7 linked regions of the Homo sapiens genome follow. The protein of the gene in region 1 purifies or fractionates together with the protein of each later gene. This does not show direct contact. Each region holds a gene or a part of one and is shown in the gene's direction. Other genes may lie near its edges. The genes, in order: NFIB, GPC4, SOX5, TBCA, CPNE1, MTHFD1 and EN1.

Region 1 (3,500 bases):
ATTTTTATCTCCAGTAGTAACAACTCTATAAGATAGGTGATTTTTATTGTCTCCAATTTGTTAAGTGAGGAATCTGAGGCAAAAAGAGGACTAATAACCTAGCCAAGATTTCATAACTGGTCATCTGTGGCTAGGATTCAAATCCCAGCTCTTTGATTTCAGTGCTCCATGTTGCTGCACTACCCATGCTTCACATCTCTGAACTGCATCTAATTCCTTGGTCAGCCCTGAAGCTTTATGTAAAATCCAGTCAAATTGCCAGTTCTTAGAATCTAGTTTTGTTTGTTTGTTTCTCAGATGTATTTCAATTCTGAGGATTTTCAAACTTATTCTCACCCTAGGACAGAAGCAAGTAGGCCATAACCTCCCCTGCTAAGGTATTCCTCACACTCATTACACCCCCTTAACATAGATGAGAATGGGGTGGGCTGGGTGCAGGGTTACTGTTGTTTGTGGGAGTTCTCATCTCTAGTTTTGGACATAGACCAGCTAGCAAGCAGGCTCCATGGCCACTGTGGACCCTGCCCCGGTGTGACTTAAGGGTCATGTGGCATTCCCAGAGGCCTGGATTCACCACCATTTGCCAGAAAAGTTGTCTAATTCTTGAAATAAAAGGAGTCCAGTGGAATAGTAGCAAGGGTGAGGAAAGCAGTGAAATCGTGCAACGTATATTAAAGATGCCCAGAAATAGGTCAACGCAAAGTTCTGTATTTGCTGTATATACAAGTTCTGCTTTTTATGTTATTAGTGACCCTGGAACAAGGGTCGGGGTGCTGGTAACAGCAGTTCACTTTTCTTTCATCAGAGAAGGGTTTACAAAAGAACGGTGGCTTTAAGAGATCTTTGACATTATTCCAGCAAGGTGCTAATTGTGGTTGTGGTTTCCTTTTTCTTTCTTTCATTTTTCGCTTTAGTCTACCAGGTGCTACCGAGTCAAAAGCATTCACTGAGAGCCCACAGACCATTCTGTATGCATGGGCCATGGCAAATCAAACCGCATCAATAAACCTGTACTTTTAGAAAGGGAAGAAAAAATTTTCCTAAGAGATTATTTGGTATCTAAACTTTTTATTTTTGTTTAAACAAACCTAATTTGCATTCCTAAGAGTCATTTTTTAAAGTCCTTATTGTAAGCATATTTGGTTTTTGTTCAAACCATTGGCTTTAAAACACTTAAATTCTAGTGTATAATCATTTATTTTACTTTCTGCTTATATTGATCATTTTTCCTTTAATATTTATTTTCAGGTTACCTTGAGGATAGTTTTGTAAAATCTGGAGTCTTCAATGTATCAGAACTTGTAAGAGTATCCAGAAGTAAGTAAATTGTTTTGTTACTACTTAAGCATGCAGTATGATTTAAAATACTTTATATTTTGAACCTTAAATGTAGTATAAAGAGTGACCACATATTAGGAAAATTTGAATTAAAATCTTAAAACCTTTGATGAAATAACAATATATTTTGCTTGATTTTCTAAAATGTTTGCATTCAAATCATCAAAACTTTTTGTTGTACAAAAATAATTTTGGGGTTTTTCTGATTGCCATGTTATTGGTATTCATTTAATTCACTGTTCTCTGCATGACCATAGATGGCCATTTATATCAAAGGAAGTGTGATTAATTAAATGTACTCTATGTTGTTATGATAACCCACATAAGTTTCCTGTAGATAAGTGCTTTTTCATTTTACTAACATTTTGGTGGGGGTTGGAGATGCACAGGATATACACACTAACGTGCAGAGTGTAGAGGGATGCAGAAATTAACTTTGCAGATTGTAGTTGGATATAGATAGAAAGCATTGTTATCCAAAACAATGTCCAATTGTTTTAACTGGCCACTTCACCTGAGACACCATTCTTAGCAGGCTGGATCAGATTTTTCTAGGCTAAGCTCACCTGGCAGGCTACCTAAGCAAAGGGGACGTTACCTTGATTAACTCTTTTACTTATTACTAGCATGTACAAACATATCCAAGATGCAGATCTATATGTACTAATTATGTTAAAGAAGGTGACTCCTTTCTTCATACTCCCTTCACTGATTTAGCTTATTTATGTAACTTTGAAGGGTATATTTTCACCTGACATTTTGATAGAATGCATCACACTTCGGAGTGATGTTATTCAGATGATGTAGTCACACTCTGATACCTGCCTAAGTTGTGTTTCTCATTTGGGTCATATTTAGAGGTCATGAATAAGAATTATGATGATCCAGAAAGAACAAAGAGTAATCGAGTTACTGAGGATAAGAATAAGCAGTGTTTTAGAGTCTTGTTGTTCAGTAAAGGAATCTTCACGCTATCACTGACTGTCTTTTGAACCGTAGTTCCTCAAATAGCTCACATTTCTAAAGTGAACAGTGCAAATAGCATGTATAGCAGGGAGTGATACATATGAACGTTTAAGATCTTAAGTAGTTTATCCTTTCTGGTATAATTCTAGAGTGGATAAATGTATGCCCAAAAGACTTCTCTCATGGGTCTTTTTACATGGTGGCAGTGTAGGAGAAGAAACACAAATATCCTGTATTCTGGTAGCCCCAGGGTGTGTATTCGATGGGCAAGGAGATTGTCCAAGGCAGTGTACCTTAATGTGTTTTTCCAGATCAATATGTGATATCCAAAGGTATCCAACATTTGAAAGTTTTCACTTTTAATTTGGGAAGAAATATGCCTGACTTACCAGTAGCACTTTGTAGCATCAGGTAAGACAGGGGTTATCTGAAGGGGTGTGTGTGTCTTCCCCATACTCTTCTTTAGCGGAAAGGCTTATGGTGCTCCAGTTAGGAGGCTTATTAAATTATTTGCTTAAATTTGTACTTCTCTGAGTTCAAGTTCAATGGTATATTTTCATCCTTCTTAGGAGTAGGGCAGTAGAGTCAGCTGTCAGAAAATATTTATTTAGTACCTCATGATAGGTAATATTATGCTAAGGGCTGTCAAAGGAGAACCACATTAGAACCTTCAAAAGCCCAGATAGATATTTTGAAAAATCTGAATTTCAAACATTAAAACAAAGATGAAAATTATCTTTCTAGAACAGTTCAAAACCAAGGTAAATTTAATATACTTCATTCATTCATTCTTAACTTATAATGTCATATCCTAGAAACTTTTAGGTTATTTGTTATAACAAACATTACTGATTTGTAATTAGCACATTAATTATCTATATTCATTACGTAATTTATTCAGCAAACATTTATTTTCTCCTCCATATGTAAATAGGTGTCTCTGAAAGGCCTGATAAGTTCTCCTCCTAAGTGTTTTAATATATCCGCATCATAATCTTTGTTTACACAATTAAACTTCATTATTTATGAAATAGGGGTTTGCTAAGTAAACATAAACTTCAGCACAACACTATGTGTGTATCACAAATTCTGACTTCTTGAGGGTTTACAGTATGCTAGTGCTTTCAGTCCTCTAGGGTTTTACAATCATAAGACCCACTGATGTGTATGTTGACTTTAGCTAATGAAGCCATTCA
Region 2 (3,500 bases), on another chromosome or scaffold:
AACCCACCATCCTCCTCAAGAGGGATAGCTAGCTTCCTTCCTTCCTTCCTTCCTTCCTTCCTTCCTTCCTTCCTTCCTTCCTTCCTCCAACAGAGTATCACTGTCACCCTGCTAGAATTCAGTGGCACAATCTTGGCTCATTGCAACCTCACTGCAATCTCAGCTGCTGGAATGCAGTGGTGCAACCTTGGCTCACTGCAACCTTCGCCTCCTGGGTTCAAGTGATTCTCCTGTGTCAGCTTCCTGAGTATCTGGGATTACAGGCACACACCACCACACCCGGCTCATTTTCATATTTTTAGTAGAGACAGGGTTTCGCTATGTTGGCCAGGTTGGTCTCGAATGCCTGACCTCAAGTGATCCACCCACCTTAGCCTCCAAAAGTGCTGTGATAGCTTTGAAGAAGGTTTCCATCAAATTGGAGAAATGAGGAATCCACAGGAACAAGAAAGATTAGAGTTCATTAGGAATTAAAGAACTTCCATCTAATTTTGCTTAGTGGAAATACTAGAATCTAGCAGAAGTATTTGATAACCTCTTGTATAATCTTCATAATCTTCACGCCTGTAATCCCAGCACTTTGGGAGGCAGACAGATAAAATCTTTTCGCTTTACGAATCATCTTACTGGGGTCATTTTACATTCCAGGTACCTGTTTGCAGTGACAGGAAATGGATTAGCCAACCAGGGCAACAACCCAGAGGTCCAGGTTGACACCAGCAAACCAGACATACTGATCCTTCGTCAAATCATGGCTCTTCGAGTGATGACCAGCAAGATGAAGAATGCATACAATGGGAACGACGTGGACTTCTTTGATATCAGTAAGCATTTGTGGTTTGAAAGTACGAATTGCTCTTGTATGTCTTCTGATGAGAACAAGTGGAATGAAATTTCTATTCCATTTTTTTTTAAACTAGGTGATGAAAGTAGTGGAGAAGGAAGTGGAAGTGGCTGTGAGTATCAGCAGTGCCCTTCAGAGTTTGACTACAATGCCACTGACCATGCTGGGAAGAGTGCCAATGAGAAAGCCGACAGTGCTGGTGTCCGTCCTGGGGCACAGGCCTACCTCCTCACTGTCTTCTGCATCTTGTTCCTGGTTATGCAGAGAGAGTGGAGATAATTCTCAAACTCTGAGAAAAAGTGTTCATCAAAAAGTTAAAAGGCACCAGTTATCACTTTTCTACCATCCTAGTGACTTTGCTTTTTAAATGAATGGACAACAATGTACAGTTTTTACTATGTGGCCACTGGTTTAAGAAGTGCTGACTTTGTTTTCTCATTCAGTTTTGGGAGGAAAAGGGACTGTGCATTGAGTTGGTTCCTGCTCCCCCAAACCATGTTAAACGTGGCTAACAGTGTAGGTACAGAACTATAGTTAGTTGTGCATTTGTGATTTTATCACTCTATTATTTGTTTGTATGTTTTTTTCTCATTTCGTTTGTGGGTTTTTTTTTCCAACTGTGATCTCGCCTTGTTTCTTACAAGCAAACCAGGGTCCCTTCTTGGCACGTAACATGTACGTATTTCTGAAATATTAAATAGCTGTACAGAAGCAGGTTTTATTTATCATGTTATCTTATTAAAAGAAAAAGCCCAAAAAGCAGTAAAATTTCCATTTCTCCCTGTTATTTTAGTTGCCTTATCTGGAGAGACGTGGAGGTGATTTTCTTTTTTTTAAATTATTATTAAGACAGAATGTGAGGGCACAAGCAGGCTTCTGAGCCACTTGTCAGATTGTATTCAAAGCATCAATCCAAGAAGGAGGTTATGTGTACTTCATTTATTGGTGATAGTTGGAAGAGACTGCAGACTACTGCTTTGAATGAGTTGAATTACATAAGCTAAGATCACTATAGGTCCATTTCTTGAACCCACTTATACATAAAATGTAACCCATTTAGAAAAAGATTCTGGATATCATCCCCCTTGAAAGATAGAAAGCATTCAGGATGTCCCAGTTATCACATGTTCACACTTGGGTTTAGGGGTGTTTTTTTTTAAAACCAGGCAGGTTAGCTAGCCCACCCTGTGCTAGTTTTCATGTTCACACTGACCCTATTTGAATTAATATCCTTTGTTAGAGTGGTCGAGATTTCAAACCCAATTATGTACAGGGAGCTGTCTGAGAGCTAGCCAGAACTGGGGTACAGCCTGGGCTCAGGGAATAGCTGTCAACACTCGGGCAAAGTTTTTGTCTGTGCATGTGTATCTCCATTTGTTTTGGGATCCCAGTTTTTGTTTTAAGAGAGTATAAGGTGTCTCATTTGAGTCTTTTTCTTACCTAGCCCCCTCTTATCAGTAAAACAAAGGACTTGCCATGGTTCACAGCAATGTGCTACGATCCAAGATATCAGCCAAGGAGCCCACTTAGGGGAGAACTAGGTGTCCAGATTTTTGTATGTGTTGTTTTTCTTGGGGGATGGGGTGGGGTGGGAGTAGGTAGAGCTGAGAATACTACATCTTAGTGGTGACCTTTAGCCACGTGGGTGAAGTGGCAAAGGCCATGGCCATATCTGTTGTCCCAGGCCAAAGACTAACAACTGCCTTGGGAATCCCTTCCTTGTGTCCTTACCAAATGATAGCTCATAAAACTCTGATAATGTAACAAATCACTTTCAAAGGAGTTCCCAGAAGTCTTCAGAAAGACTAAAATTCTGTCTCTTCCTGCTTTAGACAGCCATTAAGATCCCAACTAATTTTACCGAACCTAAAACCCACAAAGAGGTTGTTTGTGTTATTGTTCAATCTTCAGTTGTAAGAGTAATTCTCTATTTTTATATTGAAACATAATTACTTGATAGCTCAGGGTCTACATTTCATTCAACTTTTTACACCAAATTCTGCAGAGTGGTCAAAATGGAATATTGGGGGCTGTTGTAAACAGAGGCTTAATTTTATTAGAAGTAGCCAGTTATTTATTAAAGCATGATGTTAATAAAATAGGCATATTCTGGCTGGTGTGTATAAGTGGTTTTTTTTTTAAAACAAATCAGAAGACATAAAATTGAAAAGGCACTCCATTTATATATAAGGGAAAATAGATTGTAAATAGCTAAGGGGCCTTGTGAGAACTTGGAAAATGTGCTGATACTTAGTAACTACCTCAGTTGTGAGGAATTTCCTTTTTAGCTTAGACTGCTATTACTTTTACTTGGTAGAAATGAATCTGGTCTCCAAAATATGGCTCAGAGAGTTATCCCCATAGACCTTGTTAGATTGTTTTTAATTTAAAACCTTGAACTCTGCCCAGCTGTTTTCTTCCAGTCAAATTCTCTAAACCAATAACATTTTCCAAATTAAGTATTCTTGAAGGTTCTTCTGAACTCTTACTGATTTGTTTTCTTTCTTTGCATTTTTTCCTGTTACTCTTTTATTATTTAAATTGTCTCTTGCTTTTGAACTTCAACTATGAAATAAACAAATCATAGATTTTTCCATTCAGGTCTGACTGGATAACTCTTGGCTTCTAAGCAGCTGGCAAGCTCACCCCCACTCCC
Region 3 (3,500 bases), on another chromosome or scaffold:
ATGTGACTGTCCATGGGACTCTTTGGATAACTTTAAATATTAGGGGGAAAATTCAAAGGAAATTATTATTTTTCTCATCTTAAACATGTGACTGTAGACTCCTTAAGAAACTAGAGGAATGTAACTGTTCATTTGTTCTTTTCCATACCAGTTTTACATATATTTTGGGGGGCAGACCTGTCATTGCTGTATCAGCATATGTCATGCATTTGTCAGCATATAATTTCAAAGAAAAGCCAATTATATTACAGGGAAATACCTATATTGTTTTTAACCTCAAAATTTGGTCAGTGTTTTTATTTTTGTAACCTCGGAGAGAGAAAGAGAACATAAGGTACTATATGTTCAGACAGTCTTTAAGTAGCAAAGATATATCCTCCCCTATAATCATCCATTCTGCCAAATTGATTTGTGCTTCTTTACCTATTTAATGTTTCTACACTACTGGTATGCCTGTTGATTTAATCTGACTATCCTCTTTCCGAATTGCATCAAAAATCACATATCGGAGTTTATTTTGAGCTGTTGAAAGTAAATGGTGAAACAGTCCATTGAAAGAAAGAGAAAACAGATTAGAAATTGGTTAAAAATACAAATATAACATTTGCCACCACAAGGCTTATCAGAAAAACTTCATAAACAAGCATCTGTCTTAAGAACTGGAAGTACCATTATCAGAAGTACTTTTTCTTTTCAGATATCTTAATAGACTGAAAAATAGGAATGCAAGGAAAAGAGCTGACAAAAGTTTTAACGCTAACACGAAGTGATGTTTCCTGTTTTCAGGAAGTGCTGGAGTCTCAGAGTCAAGAATTTATAGGGAATCCCGAGGGCGTGGTAGCAATGAACCCCACATAAAGCGTCCAATGAATGCCTTCATGGTGTGGGCTAAAGATGAACGGAGAAAGATCCTTCAAGCCTTTCCTGACATGCACAACTCCAACATCAGCAAGATATTGGGTAAGAAAACCATTAAGAACTAAGTGACGTATGGAATAAAGGTACTGTTCTGTTTTCTGCAGTTGTGGAAGGATCCTGGATTTGGAGGCCATACAGGTCGTGTTATTTGCTTATCCAGAAAATAAACATCATCATTGAGGCTTCTTCTGGTGATGAAGCATTCTATGTCCATTGAGAAATATGCCATATTTCTATAGCTCATGTAGCTGTTTGTCTTCATACTAATTATTTTAATGCTTTATCTTCTTCAAAAATCTAGAAATATTTTTACTAAAGCTGAGAAAAAAGTTGCTTTCACATGAGCCACTAGATATTGCTACTGATCATTTGTATTCATTTCCTTGCATACTATAGACAACTTACTGTTAATCTTAAGGCCTCCTTCCTCTCTCATCATCCTCTGTAACAGAAGGATAAGGAGTTTTATTTGCGGAATTCATCTTGTTGTGGGGGTGAGGGTGGAGGTGGGGAAGATGTTTGTTCCAGTGCTATAATTGAAAATCAGTTTTAGATTTTCAGAACACAAGAAGATGTAGAGTGTACATTTTTACATTTATACTTTTAGTAACCTTAAGTACTAAAGGTACTTTTAGTCATACTAAATACTTTTCTGCCATTGCAACATTCAATTGAACAGAAAACAAAGTACGCATTTACTCTACCCACACAGAGACTGTAGCACACAGGAAAAATGGTTGGGGAGAAAGGGTGCTGATTATAAAGATACCTATTATAGACCAGTTCAGGTCCCAGGGGGAAAAAGAAAAAAAGAAGATTCCATTGCTTTTGTGCCTTATCTGACATCATTATCACTGTCATTGTCATTCATCACTGTCTGATGGCCAGATACTAGACAACCTAAGAAAATTTTGATGATTCACTCTGTGACTTCTAAGAGTTAAGTGACAAAAATAGAATAGAAACATTTTATCAGAAAATGTTGGTTTTAACAAATAAGTAACAAAATTTGTCAAAATTATTAAAGTTTTATTAGAATTCGTAAGGCACTTGGAATTACACGGAGTTTATAAAAATAGTATCACTTTTGATTCATTACAGATCATCTATAAATGGCAAACATATGCATGAGGTTTTGTTTTGCAGATGGAGTCTCGCTTTACCGCCCAGGCTGGAGTGCAGTGGTGTGATCTCGGCTCACTGCAACCTCCGCCTCCCGGGTTCAAGCAATTCTTCTGCCTCAGCCTCCTGAGTAGCTCGGATGACAGGCGCGGGACACCATGCCCAACTAACTTTTGTATTTTCGCAGAGAGAGGGTTTCACCATTTTGGCCAGGCTGGCCTCGAAGTTCTGACCTCAGGTGATCCGCCCACCTTGGCCTCCCAAAGTGCTGGGATTACAGGCATGAGCCACCACGCCCGGCCGTATGTTTTTATGATCCCATATTCTCAACAAAGATAATAGATGCCACCTAGTCCACAAGGTGCATTTGTAATGGGATCAAAACAAACCATTAGCCACTTAAAATTGTGTCTCATTTTTCACCTAAATGTTATCTAAAAAGACATGAACATGCAAAGCTTTCAGTAGTATACATAGAAAATATGAAAATCTGTGTGTAAAAATATATATCATGCATAATCAAAAACTTGAACTGATCAAGAGGAAATACACATTTTTTTACATCTCTACCAGCTCTGATCTATTTTTCCCTTTTGTGACTATATTTTTTGTGACTATATTCTACCTTCCATGTGAAATTTCCTATCTTTAAAAAACAACATACCAGTTTCATTTGGGAAAACTCTAGAAAAGAATACTTTATGTAAGCATATTTCATGTTTTAATATATCAGTTATTCCCAAATTAGAAATCCAAAATTGTCAGAATAAAAACCAAGTTAAATACTAAGATTTCAAAACTGTCTTTATATTATTCAATTCTTGTGTCTGAATACCAAAAAGGTGATAATCATTAATTAAAACTATCTTAACTATAAGAGAAATATCAGTTTTGATGATAAGAAATGATATTTTAGGAAATGTAGCAAAAGTATCTATGGAAAAGAGATGACTGGCTATGAGAATTCCCTTCTGATTTGAGGGAAAGAATATTAGAATGACCATATGATTATATTATAATAGACAACATGAAAGAGAATACTGCCTAATTTCAGTCTTTCTGATGAAAATGTATTCTTTAAAGATATAACATTTATATTTAGGAACAAATAAAACATTGAGGTATTTTGGGCTCAATATTTAGTCACAGCTTTAAATAAATAAGTGATCTTCAAATATCCACAAGATCATTCTAAATGACCCATTTCATACAAAAGTACAAAGAAAGCTTGATGTTTTCCTCTTTGCTGATTGTTTTGGATAACAGCCTCCGACAGCATGCCGCTAATTCATTCTGCTTAAAACAGGCGCTTGAGCTGGGTTGACATTTTACGTAGTCTCTGGGGATCGTAGTTGACATTTTAAAGGGCTTCTAAGCATTTTATAATACCCTAAAATCTGGTTTTAATAAGCCATTCTGCTGAAATTGTTAACATAAGGAATCACCTTTTACTGCTTGGC
Region 4 (3,500 bases), on another chromosome or scaffold:
AAATTATTGCTAAAACAATTTTAAATTATAAATCAAATGCAGATTTCTGTATCTGACATTCACATGTTTCTGTTGTCATGCTTGAATGTATCAGTACTTGCAGCTTTCCCCTGAAGCTGACTTTGTGGTCACAGCTTTTTTTTCCTTTTTGCCAACAGCTTTATTGAGATATAATTCACATACCATACAATTAACCCATTTTAAGTCTACAGTTTACTGGCTTTTAGTAGATTCACAGAGTTGTGCAACTATCACCACAATCATTTTTAGAACATGTTTCTTACCCCCAAAAGAAACCTTATACCCTTTAGCTATCACCTTTCCAATTCCCCTGTTGTCCCCAGTCCTAAGCAACCACTAATCTACTTTACGTTTCTATAGATTTGCCCGTTCTGGATATGTCCTGTAATAAAATCATACAATATGTAGCCTTTTATGTCAGACTTCTTTTTTACTTAGCATGTTTTCAGGGTTCATCCATGTTGTGGCTTGAATCAGCACTTTATGTTTTTTATTGCCCAATATTCTGTTTTCTGGATATACCACATTTTCCATTGATTATTGGACTTCCACATTTTGCCTGTCTTGCATAATGTTGCTGTAAACATCCATAGACATGTTTTCTGTGGGCATATATTTTTATTTTTCTAGGGTATGTACCTAGAAATGGAATTGTCAGGACATATGGTTACTCTGTTTAACTTTTTGAGGAATAGTTAAACTTTCCTAAAGCTACTATACCAATTTTGATTGCCATCCAGCAATGTTTGATGGCTCCAATTTCTCTGCATCCTTGCCATCTTGCCAACAGCCAGATGGAGAAAGCTATTTTTATTACATATGTGCTATGAAAGCTTTTTCTTCTGCTCTTTAGATACTGTGTATATAGGAATGTTAATATTTTCTTAGACTATACTTTTATATTACAACTTTAAACAACCAGAATTAGGGAAGATTGAGCTATTATGATTAATATAATTTGGATTATCTGTGGGATAATCAGTAGAACTTTGTATTGCAGTATTTCTTATTGTTGAAACTTTTCCTGATGTACTTCTTTTAAAATACTTTTTCTTACTTTAGTAAGTAAATACTAGTTTGTTTCCACCACTTGTCTGTGACAGAACTGCATCTATCCCAGCTCCTTGCACAAGGAAAGTCTGGCATAAAATTAAACGCACAATAAATACTTGTTAAACGATTTTGTTGTTAAAAAATAATCCAGTCTTTCTTTGTTTTGGATTTGACATGCAATCTACTGAATTTTCCCCTGCCAGTAAACTGAGCTTTTATCATTGTGCTGTTTCAGATACATGTATAAAGGTTTGGAAGACATATTTAAAAAAAAAAAAAAAAAGACAGTTGTATTAATATATATTGGTATATACTAATTTTGAGTATCGCTTTCACATTGTAATTATAATATACTGAAGTGGGTTTTTAATTTAAAAATTAAGAATTTCATGCTTTGGGCCAGGCACGGTGGCTCATGCCTGTAATCCCAGCACTTTGGGAGGCCGAGGCTGGTGGATCACAAGGTCGGGAGATTGAGACCATCCTGGCTAACATGGTGAAACCCCATCTCTACTAAAAATACAAAATATTAGCCGGGCGTGGTGACGGGTGCCTGTAGTCTCAGCTACTCGGGAGGCTGAGGCAGGAGAATGGCATGAACCCGGGAGGCAGAGCTTGCAGTGAGCCAAGATCTCGCCACTGCACTCCAGCCTGGGAGACAGAGCGAGACTGTCTCAAAGAAAAAAAAGAATTTCATGCTTTGATAGATTGCACTTACGTTAGGCAGGTATAGGACTTAAGAGCATGAGGATCATGCTTATATTTATGACTAAACTATTTTTCTTCTGTTCCTTCCTCCCCCCATCTAGTATATCTACTTTGGTATTTTAAATATAATATGTTTTATATTTACACAGTTTCTTTCTTATGGTCTGGAGAGAAAGCTAATTTTCTAAAACATTTTTGGCTTTTTTATAGGTTGGTCAAAGAAAAAGTGATGTATGAAAAAGAGGCAAAACAACAAGAAGAAAAGATTGAAAAAATGAGAGCTGAAGACGGTGAAAATTATGACATTAAAAAGCAGGTAAAATTATATCATAAATAACAATAGCTAACATTTACAGAATGCCATATTAACTAATGTAGTTTTTACAGTAGTCCTCTGACTGAGATTATATTATTATTTACTTCTTTACTATTAAAACTTCCATTTAAAGATAAGGAAACTCAAACACAGGTTAAATAACTGCGCAAATCACATAGTTGTTAAGTGACACAGCTGAGGTTTTGTTTTGTTTTGTTTTGTTTGAAACAGGGCCTCACTCTGTCATCCAGGCTGGAGTGCAGTGGTGTGATCATGGCTCATTGCAGCCTTGACCTCTTGGCTCAAGCAATTCTCCCACCTCAACTCTCTAAAGTGCTGGGATTACAGGCATGAGCCACCACACCTGGCATAGCTAAGATTTGAACACAGGCATTCTGGCTCTAGTATCTGTACTCTTAACCGCTAAATTCTACTGTCTTTTCCAATTTTAAGTATCAGATATAAAAATGGACTAATCTTATATTAATTATATATTTAGATTCACAAATATTGTCTCCACACTGATGTGAAGACTACAAAAATAAAATACGCATTGCACTTTTCAATGGCTACTTGTGATTGTCTTCATGACAAATTTCAGTGGCCTTAACATTGCATACAAGGCTCTTCTTGATTTTGAATCAAGAAATGAGGTTACATCTGCTTATCTAACCTCATTTCTTACCAATCCCTGTCTCAACCTCTTAGGTGCCTTATAGCTCCCTGAACATGCCCTTTCTTCTTTGCCTCTGAAATTTTGCATGTCTGGGATGCTCTTACTCCTGGCCTTACCTACCCTCTCCTTATTAATTTCTGTTCTTCCTTGAGGTCTCTTCTACTCTCACCTCAAACTGAGTTAGGTGCCCCTCCTTTTTGCTCCCATAACACTTTCTTTATTCCCATGATAGCATATATTGAACATTCATTCTCAGCTGACACTTGCTTCATAATTCCTTGAGAAAATAGAGGCCGTTAGGGAACTTTCTCATATTCTTACGACAAAATCTGTCAACCTATCTGCATCTGTACCTGTACCACTTTCCTTCCTGTAAGAGTGGACTATGTGCCCTAGCCCTTGTTATAACTATCAGTGACATTGTTATTACTCTTTTTTCCCTCATCTTAAATACCTCAATAGCATCTGACACAAGTTACCACTTTCACCTTGAAACTTGACATATCCTCTGAGGTGTTCAAAATTAAAATCTTGATTTCACACTACTCCAACCTACTCTCCCAAACAAAAAACAATTTCTTCTTTCTTTTTCCTCATCTCAGTGAATGGTACCTCCACTCATCCAGATACTCAGGTCAAAAATTTAGTTGGTCCCTTCTTGATATTTTTATCTCTTTCTCATAACCACATCTAATATCAGCATCATCTCCTATTTCTTTTTTTCTT
Region 5 (3,500 bases), on another chromosome or scaffold:
TGCAACCTCCACCTCCTGGGTTCAAGCAATTCTCCTGCCTCAGCCTCCTGAGTAGCCAGGATTATAGGCACACGCCAACATGCCTGGCTAATTTTTGTATTTTTTTTTTTAGTAGAGACGGGGTTTCACCATGTTGGCCAGGCTGGTCTCAAACTCCTGACCTCAAGTGATCTGCCCACCTTGGCCTCCCAAAGTGCCAGGATTACAGGCATGAGCCACTGTGTCCGGCCTCACTTATGTTTTAATAGGATCGCCCTGATTGCTGTATTTAGAATAGCCTGTTGGGGTGGACATGGGGGAACGGAGGTGGAGACAGCATAGAATAAGGGAGACCAGTTGAAGAGGCTAATGCTGTAAGCCAGGTGACAAACAGTGATGGCTTAGATTGGGCAGCAGCAGTGGAAATAGTGAGGAGTTGAACATTAGCAGTAGAGGTGAGGAGAATTAGTAGGGGGATCATAACTCCACCACAAGAGTTAGATCCCCAGGGTTAGTGAGAAATTATTGGAAGAAGATAATTTGTGGAGGATATTATCTGGATCATAGTTATATTTGGGGTTATGTTAGGATCAGAACTTGGATTAGGGTCTGGCCTGGGGCCAGTAAGGGGGTCAGAAAGATTTATTGGTCTTTGCAAAGACCAAGATTAGAGTCTGGGTTTGGACAGCCCTATTGGGATTAAGACAAATTTTAGGGTGAGGATAGTTTGGGGTCACAGTTGTAGATGGAGGCTAGTACCCCTTTTCAATATCTTCAGACCAGGGTTGGTTGTATCTGCCATCTTCTGTGCCAGTGAGCTCACCTAGGGGTGGAGGGGTTTGGAGGCTATGAGGCCTTCTCTTCCTTGGGTGTCACGGGGGTGGACGTATGCTCAGCCCTGCCTGGGTGATGCCTGCTGGCCTTCCCAAGCTGGGACCTGTAGTCGGGGAAGGGGAGAGAAGGCTCCCTGGTGCTTGACCCAGCTCCTTTTCCCTCAGATGGCCCACTGCGTGACCTTGGTTCAGCTGTCCATTTCCTGTGACCATCTCATTGACAAGGACATCGGCTCCAAGTCTGACCCACTCTGCGTCCTTTTACAGGATGTGGGAGGGGGCAGCTGGGCTGAGGTGAGGCGGATTATGGAGGTTAAGGTTGTGGAGGGAGGCTAGGATTGTGTTTTGGGGTGGAGGCTGTGACTGTGATGCTTACTGGCCTCTGCCCACAGCTTGGCCGGACTGAACGGGTGCGGAACTGCTCAAGCCCTGAGTTCTCCAAGACTCTACAGCTTGAGTACCGCTTTGAGACAGTCCAGAAGCTACGCTTTGGAATCTATGACATAGACAACAAGACGCCAGAGCTGAGGGATGATGACTTCCTAGGGGGTGCTGAGTGTTCCCTAGGACAGGTATGTAGGGCTGGGGATTAGGATCCTTCAGATGCAGGTCTGTGAGACAACCTAGCCTGCCTGGAGGTAGGGGGCAAGCAGGACCTAACCCTGCCTGTTATCCTGAAACTCCCTTCCCTGCTTTTCCCCAGATTGTGTCCAGCCAGGTACTGACTCTCCCCTTGATGCTGAAGCCTGGAAAACCTGCTGGGCGGGGGACCATCACGGTAAGGAACCCAGCAAGGGTTGAGGAGGGACTTAACATCAATGAATTCATGAGGTGATGTAGTCTCCCCTACCTAGGTCTCAGCTCAGGAATTAAAGGACAATCGTGTAGTAACCATGGAGGTAGAGGCCAGAAACCTAGATAAGAAGGTGTGTCTGGAAGTAGGCCCTGGTAATCCAAGAGTTAAGGGGCCAAGGATGGTGTATGGGGGATGGGGGTGTGGACAGAGGGATGGCATAATGGTTGTTTGTTCCTGAGTCTTGTAACTGGGGTCTCGCATTGGCAGGACTTCCTGGGAAAATCAGATCCATTTCTGGAGTTCTTCCGCCAGGGTGATGGGAAATGGCACCTGGTGTACAGATCTGAGGTATGAGACCCCTGGGATTGGGTGGGCTGGGGTAGGAGATAATCTCCTGGGGCCTGTGACTAGCAAGGTTTGGAACTCAGAAAGAGACTGCAGGTGGGTAGAGAAGTGTGGCAGCTCCTCAGGGGGCCATGCCAGAGCTCACTGGAGGCCTTGGCCTCCACCTTCAGGTCATCAAGAACAACCTGAACCCTACATGGAAGCGTTTCTCAGTCCCCGTTCAGCATTTCTGTGGTGGGAACCCCAGCACACCCATCCAGGTGAGGAGCTTGCCCCCTAAGTGGACTGCGCTGGAGAAGAGAACCTGGGGAGGGACTTATTCTCATCTGCCACCTGGCTTGTTTATGTCCACACACACCTTTCCCTCAGGTGCAATGCTCCGATTATGACAGTGACGGGTCACATGATCTCATCGGTACCTTCCACACCAGCTTGGCCCAGCTGCAGGCAGTCCCGGTGAGTGCTGGTCTTGCCAGGGGTGTGGAAATGGGCCTAGATAGCTGAAGCTTGTGGGAGAGAGGAAGGAGAAGGCAGCTCGAGTCCTTGACTGATGCTCTGAGAATTTCCTACCCTAATTTTTCTGTCCTCACCAGGCTGAGTTTGAATGCATCCACCCTGAGAAGCAGCAGAAAAAGAAAAGCTACAAGAACTCTGGAACTATCCGTGTCAAGATTTGTCGGGTGAGACAAAAGCCCATGTAACCAAGGCTCTGATTCCTGAGCTCCATGACACCAACTGCTATCACCCCAGGCATGACCCTGGTTTCATTTGCAGGTAGAAACAGAGTACTCCTTTCTGGACTATGTGATGGGAGGCTGTCAGATCAACTTCACTGTAAGTTACTTTACCAAGGGCAAGAGAACAGGTCTGGGGCTCAGGGTGGCCTTTAGCTGCCTTCCTCACCTCCTCCCAGGTGGGCGTGGACTTCACTGGCTCCAATGGAGACCCCTCCTCACCTGACTCCCTACACTACCTGAGTCCAACAGGGGTCAATGAGTACCTGATGGCACTGTGGAGTGTGGGCAGCGTGGTTCAGGACTATGACTCGTGAGTACCTGCTTCTCTGGGCTATACCCGCTCCCTGCAGATGCTTCAGCCTCTGAGCTTACAGTCCCCTCACTGCCTTTTGCCCAATACACTGTCCTCCCACAGAGACAAGCTGTTCCCTGCATTTGGATTTGGGGCCCAGGTTCCCCCTGACTGGCAGGTGAGCTCCCTCTCTTTCTGCCACTCCTGTTTTCAGTTTCAGGGTCCTGATTTTGGGGGATGTGGTAAATTTACTTGCTACTTGGCACTCAGCTTTAAGAGGAGATGCAGGGTTGGATTCCTGCAGGCACGTAGACAGCAAGTGCTCAGGACTCCATAGCTCCTATAGGAATCTTGGCACACGCCAGTGTCCTTTTTCATTCTTAGCAGAGGTCATGGGGAAAGAACCTCATTTTCATTCTTGTCTCCAGGTCTCGCATGAATTTGCCTTGAATTTCAACCCCAGTAACCCCTACTGTGCAGGTAAGTTTCCCCATCCACCCTGAGGCAGGTCTGTCCAC
Region 6 (4,124 bases), on another chromosome or scaffold:
GTGGTGCCTGTAATCCCAGCTACTCGGGAGGCTGAGGCAGAGAACTGCTTGAACCCGGGAAGCGGAGGTTGCAGTGAGCCAAAATCGTGCCACTGCACTCCAGCCTGGGCGACAGAATGAGACTCCGTCTCAAACAAACAAACAAAAAAAGTTTTAGATGAGCTCTGCCAGTAGTAAACGGCTTGTAAAAGAAACCCGGTATCTGGTCAAGTCCTAAGTGACCTGAACCACGCATCTTCAGGACTCTACTGGGATGACTGTAACCTGAACGCGGTTCCTAGAGCAGAGCAAGCATATTCCTTGGACTCAGTAACACAAGGGGCCAGTCCTCTCCAGCATCCCAGCTGCCACCGCCCTGTCAGGCTCCCCAGGCAATTGTCCATCTTACTCCTTCTCCAGCGTGGACGCTTAAGGGGAGGGAGCATCCCTCCTCGAGGGTCAACTGGCATGTAGCTTACGAAGACCGCGTGAGTTCTCCAACCCCAGACTTGCTGCGGGGCGGGGACGTGGGGGTGACAAAATCCAGACTACGACCCTCCATGAGCCCTGGCAACCCCGGGGTGACCCCAACACCGATGAGGCCACGCGCGCTCCAGCTCTGACACTCCTTCCAGATCGGCGGGGCCTGAAACAGCGGGCTAAGCTTCACCTACGGCTGAGCGTCAGATTCAGCTGAGGAGATTCTAAAAGCGCTATGCTGGGCCCAGACCCAGGCCCTCCAGAGCAGAACGCGGAGGGGCCCGACCCCAGTCTGGTGGCGTAGGTGTGTGACAAAGTATGAGGGCGCGCCAAGCTCTCCAGTTCCACATCTGCTGTCGAGTCCAGCGCCTGCCACGCTCCCGTGCGGGGACCCGCCCAAAACTCCCTGGAAGCCAGGCGATTCAGACCCCGCCACCGCGTCCCCAGAGACTGGGCGGAAACCGGAGACTCGCCTCCCGAACCCGCGAAACTATCTCCCGCGAGACTGCCCCGCCCCAACCCCGCCCCGCAACTCTACTCCCTGATTGGCTGGAATTACGGCCGGATTCCGGAGTCCTTTCCAGCTCCCTCTTCGGCCGGGTTTCCCGCCGAATACAAAGGCGCACTGTGAACTGGCTCTTTCTTTCCGCCAATCATTTCCGCCAGCCATTCATCACCGATTTTCTTCATCTTCCCCTCCCTCTTCCGTCCCGCAGTCCCCGACCTGTTAGCTCTCGGTTAGTTAAGGGACTCGGGTCCTTCCGAACTGCGCATGCGCCACCGCGTCTGCAGGGGGAGAAGCGGGCAGGGGCGCAGGCGCAGTAGTGTGATCCCCTGGCCAGTCCCTAAGCACGTGGGTTGGGTTGTCCTGCTTGGCTGCGGAGGGAGTGGAACCTCGATATTGGTGGTGTCCATCGTGGGCAGCGGACTAATAAAGGCCATGGCGCCAGCAGAAATCCTGAACGGGAAGGAGATCTCCGCGTAAGCACCTGACATTGTTGTTGAGTGTGGGGCTGTGGACGAGGGCTCTGAGGGTGTGCAGGTCCCCCGGACCCATTTTTTGCGGGAGGGACACTTGTAGCGGAAGAGTTAGGCCCATAACACCTGAAGACCTGCAGCCAAAGAAAGAGAACCCGGGCACAACCTGCGTTTGCAAGTGGACTGCCTAGTGGCTGTAGCCGCTGGCTCCTGTGCTTCGGGGAAAAGTCCTGTGCCGACTATGCTCCCAAACGCGCAGCTGCTGGTGACTTTCTGCCGGGAGAGTGGGTAGTTGCGGCTTCCTGGAGCCCCCCTAGTCAGAACTCAGAAATCCAATCTACTTAATTCCCGTTAATTTGGAGGTGAGTAGATGGAGACTAGTGAGGTGACAAGGCTTGACAAGACTACAAGGCTGATAATGACAGAGGGTCCTTCCAGCTCATAGCTTTTCCCACTATACCATAGTCTTATCATACGCTAAGTGAAATCTAATACATTTTTCCTTTCTCTTCAATCTCGTGCTTCTCTCTAACAGCCATCTCTCTGCCCTGGTCCTAGAGTTACTTGAAACGTAATTTGGCTCCTGAGTCCTGAGAATATTCTGCATTCCACTTGACCTCTGCCTGTTCTACCCTTGCGGGACATCTGAATGCTTAATTAGTGGGTATCGTTGCCAGCTTTACTCCCAGGAAGTAACACTGGCTGCTTTTTGTCTGGGAGGTGACTGGTGAGGAAAAATGAGAGTAGAAGGAAGAGGGAAAAATATATTCCCTCTAGTAGATGAAGGAGGGAAAGATATATTCTGTGTGACCTTACTGAGTTTGCTCTTGGGACCTTTCACATCACCCGTTATGTAAGTAACTGTTGCCAGCCACAGCAGTTACTAAATTGTAATTGTCCTGTAACTCCTAACTTTGTAATAGGTTTTTGAGTGAATTACAAAGTCATCGGTGGTGAAAAGTCCGGGCCCAGTGGCTCATGCCTGTAATCCCAGCACTTTGGGAGGCCGAGGTGGGTGGATCACCTGAGGTCTGGAGTTCAAGACCAGCCTATCCAAAATGGTGAAACCCCATCTCTACTAAAAATACAAAAAATTAGCCGAGTGTGGTGGCAGGCATCTGTAATCCCAGCTACTTGGGAGGCTGAGGCAGGAGAATCACTTGAACCTGGGGGGCAGAGGTTGCAGTGAGCTGAGATGCGCCATTGCACTCCAGCCTGGGCAACAAGAGCGAAACTCCGTCTAAGAAAAAAAAAAAAAGAAATCACAATACTTACTGCTTAGTGCTTTTCAACATGTGGCTTGCTAAACTGTATTTCTGCTTTACTTTCTGTTTTTGTTTGCTTGTATTCAAACTTACTTCCTTTTCCAGTGGCTTTTTGTTTTAATATAAAAATCTTCCTTTTAGAAAGACTGATTGTGAAGAGATAATTTAGTGCATAATAATAGTGCAGATAATTTAGTACAATAATAATGCATCTGGGCCAGTACTGAGAATAGGTGCTCACTGAATATACTTTCGTTAATTGGAGAGCAAATTAAATATGTTTATCAACTCCATAAGGGCAAATACATGTATTGTCTTATTTTTGTCTATATCCTAAACACCTGGAAACCCTGTTTCCTGCCTTACTACTTGTGTGGTTTTAAGCAAATTAATTAACCTTTCTGTGCCAAAGTTTCCTCAAATGTTAAGTAAAAGTAATGTCTAGGTCATTGGGATGTTAGTAGAATTAAATGGGTTCCTAACAGATGATCATTTATAATTCTTCCTGGCACATAATAAGTATTCGATATATGTTGTATTAATAATCAGTAATTAGTTAATGTATATATGAATGATTCATTATCTTTTTTTTTTTTTACATGGTAGCTGCTGCCTTGAGATCTATTTTTTTTTTTGAGATGAAGTCTTGCTGTGTCCAATCTTGGCTCACTGCAACCTCTGCCTCCTGCATACAAGCAATTCTCTCATATCAGCCTCCTGAGTACCTGGGATTACAGGTGCCCGCCATCACGCCTAGCTAATTTTTTTTTTTGAGATGGAGTTTCACTCGTCGCCCAGACTGGAGTACAATGGCGTGATCTCGGCTCACTGCAACCTCTGCCTCCTGGGTTCAAGCGATTCTCCTGCCTCAGCCTCCCAAGTAGCTGGGATTACAGGCGTCCGCCACCATGTCCAGCTAGTTTGTTTGTTTGTTTGAGACAGAGTTTCACTCTTGTTGCCCAGGCTGGAGTGCAATGGCATGATCTTGGCTCACTGCAACCTCCACCTCCCAGGTTCAAGCGATTCTCCTGCCTCAGCCTCCCGAGTAGCTGAGACTACAGGTGTGTGCCACCCCGTCCGGCTAATTTTTGTATTTTTAGTAGAGACGGGCTTTCACCATGTTGGTCAGGCTGGTCTGTAACTCCTGACCCCATGTGATCCACCCACCTCGGCCTCCCAAAGTGCTGGGATTACAGGCATGAGCCACTGCACCGGTCCTAGAATTTCTTAAAAATCCAGCCCACTTCCCACATTCCATCCTGCGGATTAGGAAATCATTTGAGGCCAGAAAAGTGATGTGATTTGTCCAAGGGTGAATGGCAATGGCTCAACTAAAACTAAGGTCTTCACCCAGTATATGATGTTTTTCATTCTAACCAGCACTTACTACTTGCTAAAAGGAATTTCGTAAGCTTTTCTTTT
Region 7 (2,978 bases), on another chromosome or scaffold:
TTTGGAGATGCCGGCAAAGATCCTTCTTTCCAGACAGTTTTAGAGATGAACAGGCCTGACAGGGACTTAACTTGGTTCAGCAAGCTACCATATCCAAGGCAGGACCCAGCAAGTAAATGCCAGAAGACTTGGGTGTGGAAGCAGGTGGGCAGAGGTGCAGGCTTTTGAGGCACACACCAACAGTTCAATCCTCTCCTGGTTTTCCCGCTTTCCCTCCCTCCTTTCTCAGTGGGCCCTCCTCCCAGACTAGTATTTGAGGGGAACTTCACCTTCCTAAGGAGGTTTCCTGTGGCCCCTTCCCATTCCTATCTGGTGGTCAAAGCACATTTTTTTTTTTCTGGATTGTCCCTGCTTCCCTCCCTCTCCTTTTTGCTCATAGGTGGGGGAAGGGGCTGCAGTCTCCTTGCAAATGTCATCAGTAGGCAGAGAAAGCCAATCCGGCTTGTTTTTGTTATTCAGGAGTTTTTAATCCTGAAATTGCATCAGTTGAAAGGGGAGATAAGGAAGACCCAGATAAGAGAGACCCTGCCCCACGCAGCCGGTTAGAGGAATGTGGAAGGCCCTCCCTTTCTTATTGGCACCATCCAAGGGGCAAGGCTGAAAACCCAGAGCCAGGGTCATGAGGATGGATCAGGGCCTTTTCTCCTTCAGAGAAGGGGTGGTCCCTGCATCCCTGAGACCCTAGAAAAGGCTTCCTTTAGGCCAAAGAGAAAGAAGGCGAGGAGGTGTGTGTGGGAGGGAGGGGTGCGGGGAGGGGGGCAGACACCAAATACTTTGGAGCTAAGCAGCCCTCTCCCAGCCGGCTCACTATCCCGTTGTTTTCTGAGGTCAATAGCTACAAGCAGATGGGGTCTTATTGTAGTTTCTCCTGTAGGTATGATTCTTGAGGAGGAGAGGAAGATTTGTTTGCAGGCTGGCGACTCCCCCAGGGCCTGCCCTCACTGCCCCAGTCCTATCTATTCCGGGGCGGTGAGGACAGCAGGCCCCTGACCCCCAACTCTGGGCTGGGCCATATGAGCTCCAAATATCTCCTCATCTTGGATTCCTGCCTTCTTGGCTTGGAAATGTTGTGATTTCGGTCTGTCCCTGACTGTCCTGTGAGAATTGGGGTGTGGGGTGCACCTACAACCTCAACCAGCTTTCCTTCACTGCTCCTTTGCCCTCCCAAAGGGAACCCGGGGACCCCAGTGGTCTGGTGAGGGGCACTTCGATCCAGGGATTGGCTGGCGGGAGGGAGCCAGGGGTTCAGCAGGGCCTCCGAGATCGCCCCGGAAGCGCGGGGCTCGCGGCCCAGCTCGGCAATGCTATTCTCACGGCTTCCTTTGCCCTCTCCCCCCTCCCTTCTGCCCTCGGTCCCCACCCCCACCCCACCCCGGCCCTCTCCGCCGCTGCAGGTCCGCGCACCAGGAAGCTGAAGAAGAAGAAGAACGAGAAGGAGGACAAGCGGCCGCGGACCGCGTTCACGGCCGAGCAGCTGCAGAGACTCAAGGCGGAGTTCCAGGCAAACCGCTACATCACGGAGCAGCGGCGGCAGACCCTGGCCCAGGAACTCAGCCTCAACGAGTCCCAGATCAAGATCTGGTTCCAGAACAAGCGCGCCAAGATCAAGAAAGCCACAGGCATCAAGAACGGCCTGGCGCTGCACCTCATGGCCCAGGGACTGTACAACCACTCCACCACCACGGTCCAGGACAAAGACGAGAGCGAGTAGCCGCCACAGGCCGGGGCCGCGCCCGCGCCCCCTCCCGGCACCGCCGCCGTCGTCTCCCGGCCCCTCGCTGGGGGAGAAAGCATCTGCTCCAAGGAGGGAGGGAGCGCAGGGAAAAGAGCGAGAGAGACAGAAAGAGAGCCTCAGAATGGACAATGACGTTGAAACGCAGCATTTTTGAAAAGGGAGAAAGACTCGGACAGGTGCTATCGAAAAATAAGATCCATTCTCTATTCCCAGTATAAGGGACGAAACTGCGAACTCCTTAAAGCTCTATCTAGCCAAACCGCTTACGACCTTGTATATATTTAATTTCAGGTAAGGAAAACACATACGTGTAGCGATCTCTATTTGCTGGACATTTTTATTAATCTCCTTTATTATTATTGTTATAATTATTATAATTATTATAATTATTTTATCCCCTCCCCCACCGCCTCGCTGCCCCCGCCCAGTTTCGTTTTCGTTGCCTTTTTCATTTGAATGTCATTGCTTCTCCGGTGCCTCCCGACCCGCATCGCCGGCCCTGGTTTCTCTGGGACTTTTCTTTGTGTGCGAGAGTGTGTTTCCTTTCGTGTCTGCCCACCTCTTCTCCCCCACCTCCCGGGTCCCTTCTGTCGGTCTGTCTGTTCTGCCCCCCTTTCGTTTTCCGGAGACTTGTTGAGAAATACGACCCCACAGACTGCGAGACTGAACCGCCGCTACAAGCCAAAGATTTTATTATGTTCAGAAACCTGTAGTCTGAAATAAAGTGTACACTGTGCTCACGAGCGCTGGCGGCTCTCCTGTTTGCGGGCTCGGGAAGGACGTGGGTCCGGGCACACAGCGCCCCAGCGCCCCTGCGCACGCCGGGCGGGGAGCCGGCCGGGCCTTGCGATCACCGCACAACGAATGCAGGGCGAAGGGGAAGCGCGACCCAGATTTGGGTTTAGCCTGGGTCTGAAGGGTCTGGCGGGACACGCCTGGTCTCCGATTGCGTTCAAGGGAACTCAAAGGCCGACAACCACAGTCCTGGCTTCGGAAACGCTGCCTGGGCTGCGGGGCAGCTCCCCGCACCGGTCCAGGCCCAGCCCAGTGGCGGCCTCCTCCTGTACAAACTGCTTTTCACTCCAACCTGCACTTTTCTTTTTCTTTCTTTCTTTTATTTCCCCTGGTGCAGGTTTTGCTGCAGATTTTTTTTATCCAGAGATAGAAGGGGGCCTGCCTTCCTCCCTCCCCGACAGCCCGCTTGGGCGAGGGGCACTTTGGCCTGGCCTCTTGGCCGCCTGGA

What was found.
Region 2: the proteins of NFIB (region 1) and GPC4 purify together in Homo sapiens (affinity purification with mass spectrometry, with the first as the bait; one large-scale study listed by BioGRID). This does not show direct contact.
Region 3: the proteins of NFIB (region 1) and SOX5 purify together in Homo sapiens (co-immunoprecipitation; one large-scale study listed by IntAct). This does not show direct contact.
Region 4: the proteins of NFIB (region 1) and TBCA purify together in Homo sapiens (affinity purification with mass spectrometry, with the first as the bait; one large-scale study listed by BioGRID). This does not show direct contact.
Region 5: the proteins of NFIB (region 1) and CPNE1 purify together in Homo sapiens (affinity purification with mass spectrometry, with the first as the bait; one large-scale study listed by BioGRID). This does not show direct contact.
Region 6: the proteins of NFIB (region 1) and MTHFD1 purify together in Homo sapiens (affinity purification with mass spectrometry, with the first as the bait; one large-scale study listed by BioGRID). This does not show direct contact.
Region 7: the proteins of NFIB (region 1) and EN1 purify together in Homo sapiens (co-immunoprecipitation; one large-scale study listed by IntAct). This does not show direct contact.

What each region holds. Positions count from the first base shown.
Region 1 is NC_000009.12:14,153,642-14,157,141, reverse strand, and holds part of NFIB (nuclear factor 1 B-type), read left to right. Parts: intron 1-1,248; coding exon 1,249-1,317; intron 1,318-3,500.
Region 2 is NC_000023.11:133,300,490-133,303,989, reverse strand, and holds part of GPC4 (glypican-4 precursor), read left to right. Parts: intron 1-648; coding exon 649-824; intron 825-920; coding exon 921-1,123; 3' UTR 1,124-3,500. UniProt on the Homo sapiens protein: Cell surface proteoglycan that bears heparan sulfate. May be involved in the development of kidney tubules and of the central nervous system.
Region 3 is NC_000012.12:23,540,671-23,544,170, reverse strand, and holds part of SOX5 (transcription factor SOX-5), read left to right. Parts: intron 1-786; coding exon 787-960; intron 961-3,500.
Region 4 is NC_000005.10:77,706,840-77,710,339, reverse strand, and holds part of TBCA (tubulin-specific chaperone A), read left to right. Parts: intron 1-1,992; coding exon 1,993-2,098; intron 2,099-3,500. UniProt on the Homo sapiens protein: Tubulin-folding protein; involved in the early step of the tubulin folding pathway.
Region 5 is NC_000020.11:35,630,401-35,633,900, reverse strand, and holds part of CPNE1 (copine-1), read left to right. Parts: intron 1-977; coding exon 978-1,106; intron 1,107-1,204; coding exon 1,205-1,384; intron 1,385-1,515; coding exon 1,516-1,590; intron 1,591-1,666; coding exon 1,667-1,738; intron 1,739-1,875; coding exon 1,876-1,956; intron 1,957-2,123; coding exon 2,124-2,213; intron 2,214-2,322; coding exon 2,323-2,409; intron 2,410-2,546; coding exon 2,547-2,633; intron 2,634-2,727; coding exon 2,728-2,787; intron 2,788-2,866; coding exon 2,867-3,000; intron 3,001-3,105; coding exon 3,106-3,160; intron 3,161-3,410; coding exon 3,411-3,462; intron 3,463-3,500.
Region 6 is NC_000014.9:64,387,029-64,391,152, forward strand, and holds the start of MTHFD1 (C-1-tetrahydrofolate synthase, cytoplasmic), read left to right. Parts: upstream 1-1,324; 5' UTR 1,325-1,399; coding exon 1,400-1,440; intron 1,441-4,124. UniProt on the Homo sapiens protein: Trifunctional enzyme that catalyzes the interconversion of three forms of one-carbon-substituted tetrahydrofolate: (6R)-5,10-methylene-5,6,7,8-tetrahydrofolate, 5,10-methenyltetrahydrofolate and (6S)-10-formyltetrahydrofolate.
Region 7 is NC_000002.12:118,841,671-118,844,648, reverse strand, and holds the end of EN1 (homeobox protein engrailed-1), read left to right. Parts: intron 1-1,394; coding exon 1,395-1,711; 3' UTR 1,712-2,478; downstream 2,479-2,978. UniProt on the Homo sapiens protein: Required for proper formation of the apical ectodermal ridge and correct dorsal-ventral patterning in the limb.